2 linked regions of the Homo sapiens genome follow. Changing the gene in region 1 together with any one later gene gives a genetic interaction. Each region holds a gene or a part of one and is shown on either strand. Other genes may lie near its edges.

Region 1 (3,500 bases):
CACAAAGGACCCATCATCTGGTAGAGCTCCTATTTTGATGAGCTTCCCCAGTAAATGTTGCTCTAGAACACCTGGTTTGCTGCTGTCTGTCATACACCTCGTGCGCAATATTACTATGTGTGCATCCACCACATTGGAAACTCTTGTAAACACTACCTTTGTATCACCTCATTTATGCCTCCCAATCCATTTACCCCTCCCAATAGTGCAGGTGGGCACTATTATGATCACTCTCCATCTCAGATAAGAGAATTGAAGCACAGAGAAATTCAACAATTTGGTTCAAGGTCACATATTTAATATCTTATTTGAACCAGGTAGTCTAACCCCAGGGTCCAAACCTTCAACCCCTCTTCTCTACCCTCTTAGAATCTCTCAGAATACTCACATCAGCTTCTGAAATTTTGGAGGCCTGTTCTTTTATTCGTTGATGCCACCATTTCTCAACATCCTTTCTTGTCTGCAATGTATACTCTTTTGTCCACTTTCCCGTGGCACTGTAGATGCTTCTGGTACATCCGGGAATTACTCTCCTTTCCCACTTGATGACATCTGGCCCACCATTTAGCTGTCTTTTCAGAAGAGAGGCATAAAAACCCAATCTCTGCCAAACAGAAGCCATTCTTCAGAAGGTGAGAAGGCCCTGAAAAAGAGGGCAGAAAGCACACTATGAGCTGCCTCAAACCCTCCCCAGAGCTTATCTTTCCATTTGGCACAGTCCAGTGTTCTGGCCCTGTGCTTTCCTCTTACTTTTAATAATTTCTTTCCCTGAAAAGAATACTTTAGCAATTCAATTGAGCTAAACACAAACTTTTTAATAGAAAATATAAAGGGTCAGTAACCCCTAACATCAAAGATGCAAAAATCCTGTAGGAAAAAATGGAGACCATCAGCTGGCCAGCTCCTGCGCAACCTCACAAGTTGCATGGAAGGCATGGAGTGCCCTCCCTCCCCTCCCCATGGGCCAGCCCAGGGACTCTCCAGCAGGCTTCACTTCTTATGTCTTCAAGCCTCAGAAGAGCTCAAGCACATGCTGAGTTGGCGTTAGGCTCAAATATCAGAAGGGGTCTAAATACAGGCCTCCCAGGAGGGCCAGAAATTCTGAACTACTATTAGTAATTTTTATACATATTATGAGTTAAATATACCCTGTAGGCTGAACCAGAAAATAACCATTATTTAGAAGACTGTTAATTCATTTAGTTTCTCCTTCATTTACCAAATATTTATTTATTTATTTACTTACTTTTTAGAGACAGGGTCCTGCTCTTTCACTCAGGCTGGAGTGCAGTGGCATAATCATACCTCAGTGTAACCTCTGACTCCTGGGCTCAAGCGATCTACCTGCCTTAGCCTACCAAAGTGCTGGGATTACAGGCGTGAGCCACCACCAAATATTTAATGACTACCACTAGGCCCACACGTTGTTCTAAGTACTGGGAATATAGCAGTAAACACAAACAGAGTCCCTTCTTTCTTTCTCTGTTTTTTTTTCTTTTTTGAGACAGAGTCTCGCTCTATTGCCCAGGCTGAAGTGCAATGGCATGATCTTGGCTCACTGCAACCTCCACCTCCTGGGTTCAAGCAATTCTCCTGCCTCAGCCTCCTGAGTAGCTGGGATTATAGGCATGCACCAACATGCCCGGCTAATTTTCGTATTTTTAGTGGAGATGGGGTTTCACCATGTTGGCCAGGTTGGTGTCGAACTGCTGACCTCATGATCCACCCACCTTGGCCTCCCAAAGTGCTAGGATTATAGGCGTGAGCCACCACACCTGGCCCAGAGTCCCTTCTTTCGTAGCACTTATTACATACTAGCAGGGAAGCAGATAAGAAACAAACAATAAGGGAGGCAGATGAGAAACAAAAATATATAACATGTGGTCACGGTGAGTGCTATTTTTTGAAATACAACTCATAGGTTGGGGCCTACCAGGATATCCAGTTGTGATTCAAAATCCAATTTTAATGTTTCGTTGGCTTCTTCCACAGGTAAATACTGGAAATGACCTCACTGAAGAAGTTTCATGTTTTATTGCTATTCAAAGGGTTGAGGTGAGATTTTTATCAAATATTTAAGATATAAATACTAGACTAAATAGCCTAAACTTTCTCCTTCTGGCATAACAGCATTCAAGAAGTGCTACAGTGAAAAAACAGATGACAACAGATCTTTTCAAAACCAGAGAGAAATAAAGAAACCCGGCACTCTAAGCTGATGTTCTTTGATTCTCTCAAAATTCCACTTCTATCAGGATTTGGCCTGTTTCACAAAGGTACTAGAACACAAATGTTGCCAGGAAGGTCAATATAGGCTTATAACAGTGAGTTTCAAACTCACATAAGACAGCAACATAATGTGGGCATCTTACAAGTTGGTCTGCCAAAGTCATTGACATTATCAGTTCTCACTACATTAAACACCTCTTGCTTCTTCAGGGATAGAATAAAGTGCAGACTTAAAAAAAAAAATCTCTCTTAGGCCACGGGCAATGGTTCACGTCTGTAACACCAGCATTCTGGGAGGCTGAGGCAGGCGGATCACCTGAGGTCAGGAGTTCGAGACCAATCTGGCCAACATGGCAAAACCCCTTCTCTACTAAAAATACAAAAATTAGCTGGGCATGGTGACGTGCATCTGTAATCCTAGCTACTAGGGTGGCTGAGGCAGAGGAATAACTTGAACCTGGGAGGCAGAGGTTGCAGTGAGCGCCACTGCACTCCAGAGCCTGGGCGACAAAACAAGACTCCATCTCAAAAAAAAAAAAAAAAAGATAAAAAAGAAATCTCTCTATTAGTTGGGCTTGGCTATTTTAAAGTACACAGATCTGATTACAGGCATTTGAACTATATGAAATTGGTTAAATGTTAGCAATTCCATATGACTGACCTAATATACATACGCTTTGTACACTTAAGGCAATTGCATATATTTTTAGGGCTTAGGTTGCTATAATTAGAACTCCCTAATTATATAGAAGTCACAGATTTTATGGTTCTCTTGCCAAGTCAATACTTTCATACCTTTGCAAGCCAAAGAACGCCTGTTTAGCAGAGGACACATAGATGGATGCTTGCCACTTCTCTCCTAGACAGCATCCCCAAAGAACACCTAAGGAGTGTTCTGGGCTATCCTCTCAAATAGAAACAAAAGGGCACAACAAAATTATAAAATACAGTGACTTGAACTGCTCTGCCTACACTGTCTGTCTACACAACAAGAATAAGCTTTCTAAAAATGTTCACATAATACCTGGCTTACTAATGACCTCTGCTTTGCTTAAATAAACCAGTGAACTAGAGAATCCTGAAACAGATCTGGGTATTTAAAAGCATTTAAAGTTCATTTTTTTAAAAAAGCAGGAGCAGATTAGATAGTAATAGATTATTCAACAAATAAGAGAAAAACTTAAAATTAGAGCCCCACCTCAAATCATAAGCCGGAGTAAATCCCAGATAGATTAAATAATGTTTTTTATCTGTAGGTCTGGATCTGAAAA
Region 2 (3,500 bases), on another chromosome or scaffold:
CTCCTTGTCACCATGCTGAGAGCCCTTGCCTGGTTTCTCATCCTGGGGAGCCTGGGGTGAGGGAGCCCCATGCATCCCTCAGACGTCAGCTGTCTTGTCTTCCACTTTCTGCATTAGATTTCTTTCATTTTTACGTTATTTTTTCTTTTTGTAGAGTTGGGGTTTTGCCATGTTGCCCAGGCTGATCTTGAACTCCTGGGCTCAAGCCATCCTCCGCCTCGGCCTCCCAAAGTGCCGGGATAACAGGTGTGAGTCACAGCGCCTGGCTTATTTCTTTTCTTTTCTTTCTTTCTTTTCTTTTCTTTTCTTTTTTTTTTTTTATGAGACGGAGTCTCGCTCTGTCACCCAGGCTGGAGTGCAGTGGCACAATCTCATCTCGGCTCACTGCAAGCTCCGCCTCCTGGGTTCACGCCATTCTCCTGCCTCAGCCTCCTGAGTAGGTGGGACTACAGGTGCCCGCCACCATGCCTGGCTAAGTTTTTGCATTTTTAGTAGAGACGGGGTTTCACTGTGTTAGCCAGGATGGTCTCGATCTTCTGACCTTGTGATCCGCCCGCCTCGGCCTCCCAATGGCCTATTTCTTTGAATAACATCCTGTTACTGGAGTCAGAGAGAAAGACCTCTGTGTCCTCCCTTTCACCTGTAGACGGTCCTCCCTGCTGCCTAACTGCTCCCTCTTATCCCCTGTGATCCCTCAGGCCCTTTCCTTGACTCTGTTGGTGTCCCCCATGCCCCCCAGGGTCCTGTCGGGGAACCCTCTGCACTGTTCTTGTGCCCTGCGCTGGCTACAGCGCTGGGAGGAGGAGGGACTGGGCGGAGTGCCTGAACAGAAGCTGCAGTGTCATGGGCAAGGGCCCCTGGCCCACATGCCCAATGCCAGCTGTGGTAGGTGCCGGGTGAGGGAGGTGGTGTAAGGGGGCTGGGGAAGAGACCTACCTGCCTGAGGGAGAGGGCACTGAGCAAGCACTGAAAAGGCCTGGGGAATGGGCACTGGCAAAGGCTGGGGGAAACTGCCTGGGGTGACATCGCCTGGGCTCCAGGTCATTGAGGAGGGTGGGGGAAGGAGCAGCCCCGCAGTAGAGTTCTGGGGCCACTCCCAGCTCTAACACCCCTTGGCCCTCGGGCGTCCTGGGTGGCCAGGTGTGCCCACGCTGAAGGTCCAGGTGCCCAATGCCTCGGTGGATGTGGGGGACGACGTGCTGCTGCGGTGCCAGGTGGAGGGGCGGGGCCTGGAGCAGGCCGGCTGGATCCTCACAGAGCTGGAGCAGTCAGCCACGGTGATGGTGAGAAGACCTTCGCTGGCAGCCCCCAAGAGGTCCAGGCAGAGCACAGGGGACAAAGATGGGGAAAGAGAGACACACTGTGGAGGAAAGAGACAACGAATAAGGAGCACACTGAGGTTGAGGGACGGACAGAGATGGTTTAGACCCACAGGGCTCAGGCCTATGCTCTGGGGCAGCCCAGGGCACGCACACACCCTCAGGGTGGGCACTGACCCAGCAGGGACCCCAGGCTATACTTGAAGCCCCAGGACTTAGAACCCCTTTCTGGGAACATGGTGTTGGCTGCAAGGGAGAGGGTCACAGAAACCTTACATGTTGGAGCTGAGAGGAACCCAACAGACCATCCCTCCCGTACATCACTTTTCTCTCTCCCTTCCTTCCTTCCTTCCTTCCTTCCTTCCTTCCTTCCTTCCTTCCTTCCTTCCTTCCTTCCTTCCTTCCTTTTATGGAGTTTCGCTCTGTTGCCCAGGCTGGAGTGCAGTGGCGCGATCTTGACTCACCGCAACCTCCGCCTCTCGGGTTCAAGCGATTCTGCGATTCTCCTGCCTCAGCCTCCCGAGTAGCTGGGAGTACAGGCACGCGCCACCATGCCCAGCTAATTTTTGTATTTTTAGTAGAGACAGGGTTTCACTACGTTGGCCACGCTGGTCTCAAACTCCTGACCTCGTGATCCACCCACCTCGGCCTCCCAAAGTGCTGGGATTACAGGTGTGAGCCACTGTGCCCGGCAGATCACTTTTCTATATAAGGAAACTGGAACCCAGGGAGGAGGCACAATATCAGTTGTACTGCATCCGGGATGAGTTCTCGGGGGTATCGTGGTCTTTTTTCTGGAGATTCTGGAAGCAGCATCCTCTTGGGCATGTGATGAACGTATTAGTAAGGGAGGCATAGGTCTGGCTCCAGCTCTCTCACTAATTAATTCTGGGAATGACTTTCAGAAAAATCCCTTAATCTGCCTGCACTTTGGTTTTCTTATCTGTAAGCTGAGAAGGTGGACATGATGGCCTTCTGATGTCCTGCCTGCCCCTGGGCGTTCTCTGGCCTCTATCTCTGTTATCCATACATGCCTTTGGACATCTTCCCAGGCCTTACCCTTTGTCCTTAGGCTGGCGATGGGCCGATGAGAGTAGCCACAGGTAACTCAGTCGGCCTTGTTGACGAGGTCAACGGCAGCTGACAATGGGCTGTGCCCACCCAAAAAGCTGGCTCCACCTGGGCAGGAGGAGTGGATATGCAGGGACCAGGAATGTGTGCCTGGGGGGCTGGGAGCATGGTGTTTATTTGGGGAGCCTTCACTTTGGTGGGAGAGTCCACCCCAGAATTGCTGGAGGCCCCTGGAACCATGTTGAGGGAGATGCCACTGGGGCGCTGAGCAGGGGGCTTCAGACATGGTGGAGGGACAACTAGCCACTGAGCAGTTCCTCCCTGCTCCAGAGAGCAAAGCTGCCTAGAGTGAGTAAAAGAAAGGGGACCAGGCAGAGGCCATACCCCTGCATGGAGAGACCTTAGATCAACTCTGTTTGGGGTGATTCCAGGATTTGCTTTCTCTTTGGGAGACTTACATGTTTGCTACCATCTGTGTTTTCTAGAAACTACCTATACAAAAGTCACTCCCTACTGGGCACAGTGGCCCATACCTGTAATCCCAGCACTTTGGGAGGCCAAGGAGGGATAATCACTTGAGACCAGCAGTTTGAGACCAGCCTGGGCAACAAAGCAAGACCCTATCTCTTAAAAAAAATTGCACCCTAAATGGGTTAAATGGAGGAGAAGAGAGGCTGCTCTCCCTCAGTTAGGAGGATAAGGGGTGGCAGACCAGCTCAAGGGGAAGAGTTATTGGCCCCACAGTAGTTGGAGGGGATGGGACAGCCAAGGGAAGCAGAGGGCAGGGCAGGGCTTCCCCTCGAAGTGGCTGGAACCCAGAGCTTGCACAAAAGGCTGGAAACTCTACTGGAACCTTTGAACTCACATATTCCAATGGAAGCCTGGGGAAACCATACCTCCTCTGGCATGTGGTCAGAGGATTCCACATTTATAAAGTTTTCGGATAAATGAGATTTATCCACCACTTCATTATTTTCATTTTGTGAAAATCACTTTCTAAAATGTCAGAAGATAATTTGTCCACCTCTTCAGCTTACAAAACAAACAAAAAACCCACAGTTCAGCAAGATGAAGAATTGTCGTAAGATCATGTAACTTACACATGACAAA

The links. Genes that interact genetically often act in the same process or in processes that back each other up.
Region 2: changes in LARS2 (region 1) and NTRK1 together harm fitness less than expected from each alone (positive genetic interaction), as found in Homo sapiens cells (one large-scale study listed by BioGRID).

What each region holds. Positions count from the first base shown.
Region 1 is NC_000003.12:45,391,576-45,395,075, reverse strand, and holds part of LARS2 (leucine--tRNA ligase, mitochondrial), read right to left. Parts: intron 3,494-3,500; 5' UTR 3,428-3,493; intron 644-3,427; 5' UTR 623-643; coding exon 389-622; intron 1-388.
Region 2 is NC_000001.11:156,867,365-156,870,864, forward strand, and holds part of NTRK1 (high affinity nerve growth factor receptor isoform 2 precursor), read left to right. Parts: intron 1-739; coding exon 740-885; intron 886-1,140; coding exon 1,141-1,283; intron 1,284-3,500. UniProt on the Homo sapiens protein: Receptor tyrosine kinase involved in the development and the maturation of the central and peripheral nervous systems through regulation of proliferation, differentiation and survival of sympathetic and nervous neurons.